Linked DNA regions of Homo sapiens. The protein of the gene in region 2 purifies or fractionates together with the protein of the main gene of each other region. This does not show direct contact. Each region holds a gene or a part of one and is shown on either strand. Other genes may lie near its edges.

Region 1 (7,845 bases), on a different chromosome or scaffold from region 2:
AGTGATTACTGAAGGAGGGAGGCCGAAAGTGGAGACAGTTCTTTCTCAGGAAACAGAATAGCAAGTCACCTGCTGAGACTTGGGGGTTGGAATGCTGAAGTGGGGCTAAGGAGACAGATGCAGATTGGAAGGTAGCAAATGGCTGAGGACCAGGAGAGAGAGTGATTGTTCAAACATTGGCTGGAAGATTATCTTCCATCATCTGCAACCACCTGTAATTTTGTTCCCACTAACTCCCAAGGAGTCTCCAGACCAAGGCTCACATGGGGATGAATGAAGGCCTCTACTTCCTTTTTCATAAAGGGAGGCTTCATTTGCATATGTTCACCCAGTTTGTAGCATCATCCACAGTTTCCAATAGGCATGCATGATCTCATGTGGGCAGACAGTGTGTTTCTGTGGTTGACTAGAGGAAGCCAGGGAGACATTTGCTACTGAGCATGGCTAGTATCTGTGTGTGTGAGAGTGAGTGTGTGTGTGTGTGTGAGAGAAAGAGAGAGAGTGTGTGTGTATGAATTTCGTTTCAAAATCCATATGACACCTACAGATGTTATCATGTTGTCTATTGAGATAAAGAATTTTGGAGTTCTTTTAATCACAAATATGGAAAATGTTATAAAACCTTCCCAAAGGCAAATCTGAACACTAAGATGTGTTGTGATGCCAAAGACTCTGCTTTGAAGGAGAAAAGGAAACACCTTCACCTACCATCAGTGTTCTGCAAGACAGTGACATCTTTCACAAATGCAACGTCTCCAGCATTCTCAGCCAGGCACCTAAAATGTTCCAGAAAATATACACATAATTACAGAAGAGAAACTAGTGGGGCTTTCATAAATATTTGTAATATGCATTCCAAAAACTGAAATATGGAAGTAAACATCTAAAAGACAACTATTTCTAGGAATTTACTGTTTACAGCGGCAGATTGAACACAGGTGTACCTGCCCTCCTTTTAAAACCCTATATAAAAGACATTACAAAACCAAGAAATCTAAAGATATGCGACCCAGGAAACAGGCAATCTAACATGAAGTAAGACAAAGGAAAGCACCAAAATAATGGTCAACAGGACCCCCAGGACCACAGATGTGCAGGCGGCCTACACAGCAACCAGTCCAAACTGCAGCAGGAAGATGGATGCCTTCTGGAGCAGCACTTCCAAGTAAATGATGAAACTGTGATAGCACCCAGAGAGAGAGAGAGAGAGAGAGAGAGAGAGAGAGAGTGTGTGTGTGTGTGTGTGTGTGTGTGTGTGTGTGTGTGTGTGTGTGTGTGTGTATGCATGTTGTTAGGAGATTTACATTACTGGCAGACAGTTTGGGGATGAGATAGTGATGTGTTTTTTTAAGTGCAGAAAATTAAGCAAATAAGAAAAGACATTTATGAACTCCAGAGTAAACAAAAAGTTTGTACAATAAGGGAAATATAATATGAGAATAACGCTTACACAGTCATAAGTACTGAATATGACATTAGCGTGTTGGGTGCTGAAGAGAGTTGAAGTCTGTGGTTGTGTGGTGGAAAAGGTGCTGGGGGCAGTGTGAGAGGCTAGATCTTCTTCTATACTACAGAGTCAGCAGAAAGTTAAAAATTAAGAACCAGCATTATAAGGATGATAGAAATAAAGGGGTATGACACTGGTTTCAGCTTTTAATGATTTTGCTATAAATTTCCCCAATCTAGATTCTAGATATAATTTAAACAAAAGACAAGGGATTTTCTTCCAGTATAATTAGGAATATTAAAATGTGGGTGTTTCCAGTGAACTAATACCTTGCTGCAGGTCTGAAAAAAAAAAAAAGAGGAGCACATGCTTCTTTCGGGCTCTTATGAGACATGTGTTCAGCATTTCTGAGTAGAATCACATTTCCATTTGCAAATCCTTAGTCCCTTAAAGATATTTTTATACATTCACAAAACATTTTTTTTTGTTTTGGGTCTTTTTTTATGAGCCACTTATATAGCAAAAGCTACTTTTCTGTCATTCCATTACTGGAACAAGGCTGTTGAATTTATATTAAAAAGTTCAGACACCCTCAGACACATGACGCCATCTGGTCGTGAAATGTACTCTTGGCAAATGGAGGAAAAGGAACAGGGGAAGATCCTCTCTGCACCCTTCACACTGGTAAATAGTGCCCCTGAGAAGCAACACCCGGATGAATGGTGCTGTAAAACGTGGGGTGTGGTTACAAGTCACTAAGTGGTTATAACTTATGAATTCTGAAAACTTGTTTTTTGGCTTATTTTTCACTTCGTTACTGGAGAATAACACTGCAATTCTGCCATCTCTTTGCCATTTCTAAGGCCAAAGTCAGAGAAAAAGGGAAACCTAAGCCATAGTCATGACCTAGGTGAGAAGAAAAGGGGCGGCGATGGGAAAGAGAATTCTTCCCCATAAATGGAATTGTAGGAAGCACTTAGGATACCACACTCTACCCATTTGATTTTCAGGACGAGGCTATTGAGGCCTACTGCTGTTGATCTTGGCTCAAAGCCACAGGGAGAAGCACTGCGGAGCTGAGGTCAGACAGCCCTGGTGCCAGCCTCCACTCTCTGGGGCGGTGGGTGTGGTGGGGACAGCCCTCACTGGGGCCACCCATGAGCTGACCCACAGGATGACCCCCACTCTGCTGTGACAGGTCACATCTGGCTCCTTAGAACTGCAATGCTGACATGCTGAGGGATGAGGTAAGTCCCCATCCTGATGGAGCTCAGTCACAGACTCACCGGAAAGCCCCAGTGTAGCCGTAGTATCTCTCGTTGCTGTTGGGCACGCACTTATTCTCACCCTGCTCGTCGCCAATACACAGAGCACAGAGATTAGATCTCGGGTCAGACCCAGGGGCACAGCTTTGACTGAAATATTCATCTGGAGAGAAGGAACACGGGGAGTCAGCTCTTCAAACCTGAGTCCACACAAGCAACCTTTACCTAACAGCCGATGCAGGGTGGTTTCAGTTCATTAGACTTCCCAGGACAGCAATCTAGATAGAACACACTCACCATCACAAAGCAACATGTTGTCACCAACATAGGACCCACCAGAAAAGCTTCATTCAGACTGTAGGCACAGATGGACACCCAACTAAGGCTGGGGATGAGAGCTGTGGCTGCCTGGAGGGTCCCGTCATCACAGCCTTGAGCTGGGGACTCAGCTCATGACCGTGATGGCTGTGTGCAGCAGAGCCTGTGAGTTGCCTAGTCCAGGATCTGATTTTGTTTTTATCAGTAATGGAAACCCTGCTTTGTATCTGGGTGCTTGGCCCTTTGGTATAAAGACTAGACTTATCAGACTCCCTGGGGCTCATATGGCCATATGGGTAGCTATAGGCCAGTGAAATATCAGCAGGAGTGTTGGGCGCCAGCTTCTCAGAAACATCCTTGAAAGACAATTGGTACATGCCTTTTGCCCTTTCTTCTCCTTCTCTTTCTTCATCCTGCACATAGAATGCAGAAGCAGGGACTGGACTTAGAGATGCAATGTGGGCCATGAGGTGACCTTGAGCATGAAAGCCACACAAATGGCAGAGTAGCCAAATGATTAAAGCCCAGGTTCCAGACCCCATATTGTCTTCATACCAGCCCTAGGCAAACCACCTCTGGACTACATGACACAGAAATTAACTTCTGTCTTGTTTAAGCCTCTACTATTTCAGGAGTTTTCTGTTCCTTGCAGCTGAACCTGATCTGAATTCGTTCATTGTGTGATTTAACCCAAGAAAGAATAAACAAAGGTGACAAGAAAGCTCTGCCCCACTGAGCAAACGTCACCCATTATCAGACTCCCACTGCTGCTGGAAGAGCCACACTATGTGTCAACCTCAGGAAAAGCTGGGAGTTCCCATTCCATCCTGGCAGTTTCCCTACAGCTCAGAGGCTGCCATGGAGCTGGTGAGGAGCAGAGCCACGTGAAAGCTGCCTGCCCCGGCCAGGATCAAAAACCCATGCAGTGGAGCCCCTGCCCTAGGAGACGCCCATACAAGAAGGGAGTCACATTGAGGATGTGCTACACACCATGCCACGGGGCCCACAGCAGGCAGGGTGTGGCTGATGCTGACTAGGATGAGTGTGGGGTGTGGTGGGGAGAGAAAACTGCAGAAGCAGGTGGAGCCAGGCTCTTGAGGTCTTATTCAGGCTCCGTTGCAGTGTAGAGTAAGCGTCAGTTTTGCTTAGTAACAGGAGTCACCTTTCATGAGGCAGGCAGACATCTTTCCCCAAGCTGGGAAGCCAGAGTTTAAGAGGAATTTAGGTCTGGAGCTCCAAGAGGTAAAAAGCATTTGCACATCTTGGAACTTGCATTTATTCTTAGGGTGCAGCGAAATAGGCAGATATTCCAATCTTTAATCTTGGGGTGGGGTGAATGGGGCATGGGAAGTGCTGTGCAGGGAAACCCCCAGTGCACCCACGCCTCCAGGGGGCAGCCACAGGGAGAATTTCCTTATGCTGGAAGAGGCCTGCAGGCCACTATCAGCCTGCAAATCCCCTCCCCTCCCTTCCCTAAGGTTCCACAGCACAATATGCCTACCCTCCAGGGTGGCCCACCCACCGCACCTTTGGAACTCCTTACCAAATTTGCAGGAGCCCGTCTGGTTGAAGAGCAGGCCCATGGGGATATTCCAGCCTGCAGTCCTGTCCACGGCGGTGTGGCAGGACTTCTTGCCTTTCACAGAGTTCCAGGTAAGGCTAGTGTCTGATCTCCTAACCACCGCCACAGCAAGATATCCTGGCATAACAGATGACAGAAAAACAAGTCTTAACCTCCAGGAGGCCTGGCACATGGATTCCAGTGGAGCTGTCTACAGCCCAGGCCAAAACAGGCCAAGAAGCAACACCAGGCAATGATTCCCTCAAAGAACTGGCCTTTTTAGGTAGACCGAGAAAGCATAAGCTGCTGCCTTATGTTAAGGTGAGATTGATGAAATAAAACAGTAAGAAAAGCTGATTATTTTAGTGATTACAGGGGACTGTCTTCAACCAGCCACACAATGTCCCTGAGTTACAAACCAGCAATGCATCTCTCAGTGTAAGCTTCTACAGCAACAAACACTATAAACAACAAGAGAGACCCCAACAGTGCATAAATCACCAACCACAGTGTGCATCAGGCAAGAGCACCAACATCCAGCCAGCTAACGGCTGTGTGGGTACAGGGGCACATGTCCCCAGGGACTGCCCTGAGCTGAGTCTGAACCCACCCTGCACTGGTTGAACTCAACATGGTTGCCGTTGTCCTCCTGAGAGAATGCATCTGACAGACACCCACCAAGGGCAAGTCTTTTCTGAAACTGAGCAAGCACCAGCTCTGGTGGGCAGGAGGAGTGGTGCACAGAGCACTGGGACACGAGTCCCAGGTCACGAGGACCCGGGGTCAAGACCAGGATCTACCACAGTATTACCTATGGCTGTGAGTGAGATCCTGGGCACTTGGGGACTCTCGGTGCCACTGTTTCCTCATCCCCATGAGGTGGGGAAGTAGCACCCCCCATTCCATGACCATGACAAAATGAGGGACTATATGGATGTTCTTTGCCAAGTGTGAAGGTCAATATAAACATTAATTAGAACTATTCCTCTGTGAATTATTTGCACCCTTAAAATTATTGCTCCTAGAAGCCCTATAGCTTCTAGGGCTGCAATTCTTTCTGTTTTTTTTACAGTTCCTGCCACTTCCTCTTCCAGCAACAAGAACTTATCCTTGACCCTGAAAGTGGCTAATGCCAACTCACCTTCCACAGGTCTATCCACACAGTTAGGATCAGGGTCACTGCTTTGTTGGGATTCTGAAAGAATAAAGACAAGCCAGACATCATTATCCATTCAGATGTAGTGAGAAGCCACAAACTCTTAAATCTCAATGATGCAGAATCAAATCCAAAGAGACCGTCCCAGCAGTTCCATGCAGGAGAAATGCGTCTATATGTTCAACAAAAGACATGGCACAGAGATTCACAGCTGCATTATTCACCACAGCCACCAACTGGAAACTACTCAAATGCCCATCCACACTCAAATGATGAATAATCACAGTAGACTCACACAGCGACGAGACTGAACAGTCTACAACTACACACTTAGGTGGATGAAAAGCATAACGATGAGCAAGAGAAACCAGACATAAAAAAACACATGCTGTGTAATTCCTTTAACATGAAGTTTAAAACATAGGCAAACTTAGATCTGCGACCTTAGAAGCCAGGAGAGAGGCTTCCCTTGCAGGAGTAAGGGGGCGGGGGACAGGAGGACATAAGGGGCTTCTGAAACTTGCAGTGTTTGTTCTGGGCCCGAGAGCATGGACTGTACAGTGTGTGAAGTGCCATGAGTTGTACATTTATGTGCACTTTTCTGTTTGTATGTTATAATTCACTGAGATCTTCTGGAAAATTAAGAAGATAAAACCAACCTGTCCCTTGTTAATTCTCAACACAATAGGCTTTGTGGGTAACACGGCCCCTTTCATTTCTTCTTTCCCTGATTCTCCCTTTTGAATGTATCTGTTCATCATAATGTTTCACCTGCATTCACCGAATGGGATTACTCATAGCCCCACTCCCATGACCCAGAGGGAATATACCAGAGGATGCTAACTCCACTTACTGTAGTTCTCTGCCAGGACAGGCACCAAACCACATTTGCCTGCAGTGTACACATATCCTCCATCCAAACTCATGGCATCAGCTTCTCCTTTCTGCAAAGACAGAGCAGATCTCCAGCACCACAGTGAGGCTGCATCCCGTCCTGCCTGTCTATATAGCTCTCTGAGAGAATGGTTTTCTGTCAGGTGACCAGTGAAACAGCAGAAAGAGATGGACTATTCAAACTGAGCAGCCAGAGGAAACACCGTGTGCACCACTAATTCTCTCCCAGCCCTGCCTACTTTCTGGGCTGTCAATTCAACTGGAAAGACCAGGCACAGGTTGCACTAATCCTCTGTCCTCTGAGCAAAACCTTTTCTGTGTCCCTGGCACTTTGGGGACACCTTCCTGGAGCAGTCTCACTGACTGAGGACACAGATGGGAACAGCTGGCCTCATCTAATCTGAACTCATTAGCACTCCACTCCAAGCGCTACACAGAAGTTGTCCAACACATAAGCTGAAGTCGTCATATTGGCCCACCACCAGAATGAACAAGTCCAGGCTACAACACAGGATCATGGACTCATCAGTAGTATGAAACTTCCTCTTTGACCCAGTAATATTTTTACAACTATATTAAAAATAGAGAAGTGGACAAAGATTTCTACTCAAGAATGCTCACCACAGGGTTATTGATAATAGCAAAGTAAGGGACAAAGAGGAATGGGGGCATGACTAAACTGAGCCATATTCACATAAAAGATATCCTGGAAGCATGTTTAAAAAATGTTTTCGTCCGAGTGCTGTGGCTCACACCCGTAATCCCAGCACTTTGGGAGGCCGAAGCAGGAAGATTGCTTGAGCCCAGGAGTTCGAGACGAGCCTGGGCAACAAAGCGAGACCCTGTCGCTACAATAATAATAATAATAATTATGCAGGTGTGGTGGCGTATGCCTGTAGCCCCAGCTACTTGGGAAGCTGAGATGGGAGGATCACTTGAGCCCAAGAGTTCCAGGCTGCAGTGAGATGTGGTCGCACCACTGCACTCCAGCCTGGGTGACAGATCAAGAATCTGTCTCTTAAAAAAAAAAAAATTAATGCTTTCCAAGAGTAAATATTCATGTGGAAGAATGCCCATTATACGCTGTTTAGTGAAAAGGGCTTAAAAACGACATACTGCAACACTTCATTATTGTTGCATGCATATCTGCAGATGTGCAGAGAAATACTGGAATGGAGAATTAGCCAGACTTTAACCATGTCTG
Region 2 (8,384 bases):
TCCCGAGTAGCTGGGATTACTGGTGCCCGCCACCATGCCTGGCTAATTTTTTTGTATTTTTAGTAGAGGCAGGGTTTCACTGTGTTGGCCAGACTGGTCTCAAACTCTGACCTCAAGTCATCCGCCCACCTTGGCCTCCCAAAGTGCCGGGATTAGAGGCGTGAGCCACCACAGCCGGCTAGTAGGTCGGACATTTTGAGGACAGAAAGTAGGTTCTGGTGAAGCAAGAGGGGGATAAAGGTGTTGATTATTTGACGATCTTTCCCAGCCTCATCCAAGTTTGCAGTGGTTTTTTTTTCCTCTTTTTTGAGACTGAGTCTCGCTCTACTGCCCAGGCTAGAGTGCAGTGGTGCGATCTCAGCTCACTGCAACCTCTGCCTCCTGCGTTCAAGTGATTCTCCTGCCTCAGCCTCCCGAGTAGCTGGAATTAGAGGCGCCTGCCACCACATCCAGCTAATTTTTGGATTTTTGGTAGACATGGGGTTTCACCATATTGGCCAGGCTGGTCTCAAACTCCTGACCTCAAGTGATTCACCCGCCTCAGCCTCCCGAAGTGTTGGGATTCCAGGCGTGAGCCACCGCGGCCGGCGTGCAGCGAGGCCTTTGGTCAGCATCTCACTTTGGGAGATTCCTCTTGCTTCTGCCCTTGGTTGCAGAGAGTGCCTGCCGTTCATTCTGCAGAACTCATGGTATGTGGAGTCACGGGTTCTTTGCATTACACTCCTCAAAATGATGTCCCCAGTACAAGCTTCAGTCATCAGAGAACCACTTGGTGGAAAAGAAAGCCAGCTGGGGGCTGGTGTGAGGGTGCACCTGCTCAGATGCTCAGATAACAAAGCCAGCCGGGGCGGGGCATGAAGCCAGCTGGGGGGTGGTGTGAACACACACCTGCTCAGATAATAAAGCCAGCCAGTGGGTGGTGTGAAGACACACATAATAAAACAAGGTGTGAAGACACACCTGCTCAGGTAATAAAGCCAGGTGGGGGGTGGTGTGAAGATGCACCTGCTCAGATGCCTCATGTCCATGTGCTCCATCACCAGCACGCTCCCGCCGCCTGGGGCATCCAGAACCTTGATGGGCTTGGGCACTTTCACCGTGTTTGTTTTCAGGATGGCAGTTAAACTTGCCATCTCACCTTCAAACATTCTTCTGGCCTGTCAGAAAAATACGAGAGGAAGTGGAAATACAGGGAGGCAAGGTTACTTCCGGAAGGTTCTGTAGATATGTTTTCCTCTAGCATTACAACTTCAAACCAAGACTATCCTGACTGAGGATTCCATACACATGGACAGTGTTTTCAAACACACTTGCCAACAGGGTAGGCTACAGGTTCAGAGGCTGTACTGGAAGAAGAGGGCTTGAGCTTTCCAGTGTTGGACTACACTTGTGTGCTGTGGTTGAATTGGGAGGTTCTCTGGAGAGAGGAAAATCGAAGGCACTAATATTCCACTAAGATCCGGCAACAGTGGGACTGTGAACATGGGTTACCTGTCAGTGTCCTCAGACGACACCTCAACTGCAGTCCTGTTCCACCTACAGGACACAGACTCACCCGACCTCTCAGGTGCAGGCGGCACCCTGGCTGCCTATGCCAGTGACCTGGGGTCACTTTTCACCTGAAGAGACCACCAAGTTCCATGCCACCTCCTGCCCAGCACTGGAAACCACCTCATCTTGAGATGCCGTTTCCATCCAACTCCCCGGGACCACAGCAACTCCTCCCTTGGGTCCCCCTGGCTCACCACACAGCAGTGATCCCTAGAGTAGAAGTCAGAGCCAGCGGCCTTTCCTTTCCTCCTGCTACACACACCACTGCCCTGCCTGCTCTCCCATCCTCATCTGGGGCTCCACCCTTACACACACAGACACATAACACACACACACAACATATACAGACACACAACACACACACAACACATACAGACACACAACACACACAACATACGACTTACAGACACACCATACACACACAACACACAGACACACACACACAACATACACAGCAGTGATCCCCGCAGAACAGGTCAGGGCCAGCGGCCTTTCTTTTTCTCCTGAGACACACACCACTGCCCTGCCCACTCTCCCATCCTCACCTGGGGCTCCACCCTTACACACACACAGACACACAATACATACACACAACATACAAACATTACAAACATACACACATACAACGTACACACACACAACATACACATAGACACACACACTCTCCTCGTGCTCCTGACTTCCAGCTGTCTTCATCCTTCTTTCAGTTCTTCAGAGTCCCCACCTCCTCAGCCTCAGAGCCCCACCACAGCTGCCATGTCACCGCTGCTAGGAACACTCTTTTTTTTTTGAGACGGAGTCTCATTCAGTCACCCAGCAGGCTGGAGTGCAGTGGCGCGATCTCGACTCACTGCAACCTCTGCCTCCTGGGTTCAAGCGATTCTTCTGCCTCAGCCTCCCGAGTAGCTGGGATTACAGGCGCCCGCCACCACGCCCAGCTAATTTTTGTATTTTTAATAGAGACGGGGGTTTCACCTTGTTGGCCAGGCTGGTCTCGAACTCCTGACTTCGCGCTCCACCCACCTCTGTCTCCCAAAGTGCTGGGATTACAGGCGTGAGCCACCGCGCCCGGCCCGAGAATGAGTCTAACAGAAGGACAGAGCATGCCAGGGTGTGGTGAGGCGCAGCAGCTGGCCTGGGGGCAGCACCTTCGCCCCGTTTCACAACGTACTGACCGAGGCTCACGGGGGATGGACACCTCCAGAGTCACTTAAGCTGAGGACTTAAGCAGCTTCCCCGGCTAGAACGACCCCACTTAACCAGCACCGCAGGGCAGGAACCCCGGGAGCAAGACTGCAGCAGCCAGTCCCGCCCCATTTCACGTAGCGCCCCCGAGAGAAAGTTCACGGAGAACAGGAGGTGTGGGGCGGCCGCGGTTCCTGCTCCGGACAGTTCCCCGCAGGTGCAAACTCCTCCGGACGCCCCGGACGCTTCCGCCGCCCCCGTTCACCGCTCGCCCCGCGCAAAGGGTTCCCCGCAAGGGGCGGCGGCGGCAGTCCCGGGAGAGCCACCCACGGCCTCCGGCGGGAGAAGCCCAGGCCGCGCCCCGCGCCGAGGCCCGCGACCCTCTCCGGAAAGAAACCGGTCCCCCGGCCCGCCCGACCCGCTGCCTGACCTCCGCCTTGGGGTTCACTTTCACGAACACTCGTCCTTGATCCGTGTCGTAGCTCCGGCCCTGGCTGATGCACCCGCCCCCCGAGTGGCCCGTGGCCCTGACAGAGCTGCAGCCCAGCTCGCGCCTCAGGAGCTCCTCCATGTTCCCGCCGCGGCCGCGGACCCGCCCCGGATCTGGCGGAGACTCGAGAGACGGCGGCCGAGCGGGCAAACATGAGTCCGCGCGAGGATTGGGCGGGGGGCGGGTGGGGGCGGGGCCCGGCCGCAGAGACAAGCGCTAGGATTGGGTGGCGGGAAGGGGCGGGCGTGGCCGCAGAGATGAGCGCTGGGATTGAGGGGCGGGAAGGGGAGGGGCCGGGAGGCAGGTAGGCGCGGGGGATTGGGTGGGGGTGAGATGACGTCAGGGGGCGGGGCCTGACCGACCCCGACCCAGACGGTTTGGGTTCAACTCTCCTGCACAAAATAAGTGGAAATGCTGATGGAAATAGTTAGAATATATTTTCTAAAGAGCTGACCCACTAGCAAGGGGCATCAGCCCAAGGTCTGGGTGCCGGGAGCCCAGAATGTTAAGATTGCTTTCGCCCGGGCGTTTGCTGAACCCGAGGAACAGAGCTCCTGATGTGGGGAGTGGCGGGCGCGCTCGGGGTGCACGTGCAACGGAGACACCGCCCCTAAACCTGGGGCCCTGAGGCTAACAGCTAACAGTGGCCCTGCCGTTACGGCCAGTGTCAGGTGCCAGCTGGGCTGGACCAGGAATTCCCAGAAACCTGGCAAGGCATGATTTGGGGTGGGTCGTGCTGAGGGCCACACCATCCGCTTCCCCGCTTCTGAGGCCTTCCGACCTGGGCTGAGCCCGGCTACCCGAGTCCCGGGGTCTCCGGCTCACAGACTTCTCGGCCTCCGTAATTGCAAACGCCAGCTCCCCCAGTCCATCTCCTGTCCTGGATCTACGTCTATATCCTACTGGATCCGTCTCTCTGGAGAACCCTAATACAGCTGTCAACACAAGGATGAACTAACTACAAGAAGGCCTGAATAGGAACTCTCCCAGGGGACGAAGAGGTTTCAGCCTTCAGCAAAGGATGGTTCATAGAAACCGTTCGCATAGTCGGCCCTCCACGGACTGCAACCCTAGTTAATATTACCTACAGTAAACAAAAAATTCAAGTATAGATTTTAGTCTAAAGCAAATAGGAAATGTCGCTTCCCTGGACGTTGGGAGAAGCAAACACGAATCCTCTCCTGAGGCCGGAAGCGGTGGCTCACGCCTGTAATCCCAGCACTTTGGGAGGCTGAGGCGGGCGGATCATTTTATAACTATCTATTAAATGGTACATATGTGTGTGTTCACGCACTTTTCTGTGTGTATACCGCATTTCATAATTTTAAAAAGCAAAAAAGATTAGCGGGGCGTGGTGGCGGGCGCTTGTAATCCCAGATACTCGGGAGGCTGAGGCAGGAGAATCGCTTGAACCCGGGAGGCGGAGGTTGCAGTGAGCTGAGATCCCGCCATTGCACTCCAGCCTGGGTGACAAGAGCAAAACTCCGTCTCAAAAAAAAAAAAGGCAAAAAAGAACAGATGAAAATCCGCAGATGGTAATAGATAAATCAAGGAACACATTAGAGAAGAGTGAGAGAATTAAAAGGTGCTCCAAAGGCGGTGGAGTGGGTGAACCACTCCCTGTATGCTCCTCCCCTCGGGCCAGGGCCTGCGGATGTCCCTGTTTTAATCTGTGGCCTTGACCGTTTGGACATTTTAACTCCATGCCATGAACATGAAGATTTTCATCAGAACTATGCCACCGTTAAGTTTTTGTTGAGAAACTTTTTTTTTTTTTTTTTTGAGATGGAGTCTTGCTCTGTCGCCCAGGCGGGAGTGCAGTGGTGCAATCTCAGCTCACTGCAACCTCTGCCTCCCAGGTTCAAGCGATTCTCCTGCCTTAGCCTCCTGAGTAGCTGGGATTACAGGCGCACACCACCATGACTGGCTAATTTTTGTGTTTTTGTGGAGATGGGGTTTTGCCATGTTGGCCAGGCTGGTCTCAAACTCCTGACCTCAGGCGATCTGCCTGCCTTGGCCTCCCAAAGTGCTGGGATTACAGGCATGAGCCACTGTGCCCGGCCGAGAAAGCATTTTTAGGAGTGACTTTTGGGCCGGGTGCGGTGGCTCACGCCTGAAATCCCAGCACTTTGGGAGGCCGAGGCAGGTGGGTCACAAGGTCAGGAGATCGAGACCGTCTTGGCTTATTCGGTGAAATCCTGTTTCTACTAAAAACACACACACACAAAAAAATTAGCCACACGTGGTGGCAGGCGCCTGTAGTCCCAGCTACTCGGGAGGCTGAGGCAGGAGAATGGCGTGAACCCGGGAGGCGGAGCTTGCAGTGAGCCGAGATCGCACCACTGCTCTCCATTGCACTCCAGCCTGGCAACAGAGCGAGACTCCGTCTCAAAAAAAAAAAAAAAAAAAAAAAGAGTGACTTTTGGCCAGGCACTGTGGCTCACGCCTGTAATCCCAGCTACTCAGGAGGCTGAGGCGGGAGAATCGCTTGAACCCGGGAGGCGGAGGTTGCAGTGAGCCGAGATCGCACCACTGCACTCCAGCCTGGGTAATAGAGTGTGAGACTCCATCTCAAAAAAAAAAGCAAAAAAGAAAAAAAGTGACTTTCATCTAGCTAATTTAATTCCTAACCAATTTTCTTTTTTGTCCATTCAAATGGTTTATAAATGACTTTTTCCATTTTCATTTTCAATTGAATGATATTATCTTCATCATATCAGTTTAAGTTTTCAGTCCATTTTTCCTGTCTACATGGAATTGCCGACTGCACAAAGAACACATGAGGGCTCTCTCAAGGCCATCATTTCCGCGGAGTCCCATTTCCTGACTCAAATGACAAGCTCTCAACTTTCTACTCAAGATCATTGAAACATCTGTGTTGATTATTTGTAACCGGGATATGCTTTATTTATTAGATAAGAGACTAACCGTTGGTGCGTTGATGAGTTCATCCTTGAGATGTTGTGTGTTGTTCTGTGGCTGAGGATGTGGCCGTGGTGTTGCTGGCCCCACACATCTGCGCGTTTCTGGGTCTTGCACACGCACCCACACTGCAGGCCTTCACTCCCGCGTCCTGCTTTGCTCTGTCCTGCTCTTGCTGTCTTTCTCAGACTTTCCGTTCCAGCAGCGTTTTCCTCCTCTGCAAATGAGATTCTCTTCCTGGTGTCCCAAGGTCAACATCCCCAGTAATTCACTCCTCCTGAGGATGGCTCCAACTCGCTTCTCTGCCCACACCTGCCTTGTGCTTGGATGCATGTGCACACAGAGTCCCTGCCTGACTGTCCCCCTTGTGGCAAGCCCCTGGGTCACTCTGCATGTGGCACCCACAGATGGCGGCAGCAGCCTGTCTGGAGCAGTCACTACATAGACATGCGACACCCACAGATGGCGGCGGCCAGTCTGGAGCAGTCTCTGTATAGACATGCGACGCCCACAGATGGCGGCGGCCAGTCCGGAGCAGTCTCTGCGTGGGCACGCGACGCCCACAGATGGCGGCGGCCCGTCTGGAGCAGTCACTGCGTGGGCATGCGACGCCCACAGATGGCGGCGGCCTGTCTGGAGCAGTCTCTGCATGGGCATGCGACGCCCACAGATGGCGGCGGCCTGTCTGCAGCAGTCTCTGCATAGATATGTGACACGCACAGATGGCGGCGGCCTGTCTGGAGCAGTCACTGTCATGACACCAGCAGCAGTGGGGAGGTGGCGCCGGGGCTGCGTGCTCCACGGAGCTGGTGGGAGCCAGGAACAGGCAGAAGCCACCCACCTTCCAAGCCAGCAGGGAGAGAGCCTTGTGCTCCCCAGGTTCAGTGGCAGCTGCCCAGCCATGGTTCCAGATCTGCGCATTCCTTTGCTCTTGGGGGTGGGAGTGGGCAGGAACCCCATCCTCCTGGGTGCAGGTGCAGCTTCCCAACCATGGCTGAGAAGGGGCTGAGGGCAGCTCCTTGGCACAATCAGCCTGGACGCCATAGATGACGGCAGGAGGCAGAGAGGCTCTTGGGTGGAAAGGGGCAGGTCCACAGTGAAGGCCCACCCTGAAGCCAGGGATGGCCTGAAGCCTGGGAGCTGGGCTGAGGGACCAGAATGGGAACTTATAGTGCTTTGTCCAGGCCCACCCATGGCCGCCCATGAACCAGTCAGCATGCACTTCCTCCCCTCTGAAGCCTATGAAAACCCCAGACTCAGCCAGATTTGAGGAGATGACAGGATGACCTGCCTGCAGAGAGGAGCTACCCACTCCAGGGTCCCCCCTCCGCTGAGAGCTGAGCAGATGCTGGAACTACCAGCTGCAGAGAGGAGCTACCTGCTCCAGGCTCCCCTCTCTGCTGAGAGCTGAGCAGACATTGGGACTGCCAGCTGCAGAGAGGAACTACCCATTCCAGGGTCTCCTCTCTTCTGAGAGCTGAACGCTAGCTGGGATGCCCTGCCTGCGGGGAGGAGCTACCCACTGCGAGTCTCCTCTGAGCTGTTCTGTTGCTCAGTAAATTTCCTGCTGGCCTTGCTCACCCTCTACTTGTGCCCATACCTCATTCTTCCTGGATGCAAGACAAGAACTCGTGACCTGCCAAATGGCAGGGCTAAAAGAGCTGTCACACAAACAGGGCTGAAACACGTCCCTTGCTAACAATGTTGTGAGTGACAAGAAGGAGAGAAGAGAGAGGGAGAGAAGAGCTGTGTCCCTTCGGGAAGCCCAGACCTAAGACCTCCCCAGCCAGGCCTGCGACACCGTCTCTGAGGCTCTGCGGCTCCCGGCGTCTCCAAGTTTCTGGGTGCCCCTGCATTCCCCCGTGCCAGCCATGGAACCTGCTCATGGTGCACCTGGTCCAGCTGCAGCCTCGCAGGGAGCCAGCGCCCCCAGTGGCACCCGAAATGGCCCGCTCTACCATAGCCGGTGTGCCTGGCTGTGCGCAGTGGCCAGACCTCACGATTTCTCCCTCACACACCCCTCGCCACTCCATGCCTGGCAGGTGTGAGATTCATACCAGTAGCATGAGCTGAGCACAGCCTGTCAGGCCAAGTGCACTGAATGAGCCCAGTGGGCCTGAGTAAAAACTTGGGCAAAGGTGCGACTGGCCACAGAGGTTTCCAGCTGGCGAAGCAACACCCCAAGGATCCCGTGACATTGCCACCGAGCCTGGTGCCCCCACCCAGAGCCCGGCGC

The links. Proteins that work in one complex are often made in the same cells at the same time.
Region 1: the proteins of FN3KRP (region 2) and LTF purify together in Homo sapiens (affinity purification with mass spectrometry; 3 studies listed by BioGRID and IntAct, with this or other methods). This does not show direct contact.

The regions. Positions count from the first base shown.
Region 1 is NC_000003.12:46,440,708-46,448,552, forward strand, and holds part of LTF (lactotransferrin isoform 1 preproprotein), read right to left. Parts: intron 6,692-7,845; coding exon 6,601-6,691; intron 5,787-6,600; coding exon 5,733-5,786; intron 4,730-5,732; coding exon 4,574-4,729; intron 2,876-4,573; coding exon 2,734-2,875; intron 777-2,733; coding exon 709-776; intron 1-708. UniProt on the Homo sapiens protein: Transferrins are iron binding transport proteins which can bind two Fe(3+) ions in association with the binding of an anion, usually bicarbonate. Lactoferricin binds to the bacterial surface and is crucial for the bactericidal functions.
Region 2 is NC_000017.11:82,711,679-82,720,062, reverse strand, and holds the start of FN3KRP (ketosamine-3-kinase), read right to left. Parts: upstream 3,358-8,384; 5' UTR 3,308-3,357; coding exon 3,167-3,307; intron 1,620-3,166; exon of another isoform or gene 1,492-1,619; intron 1,158-1,491; coding exon 1,006-1,157; intron 1-1,005.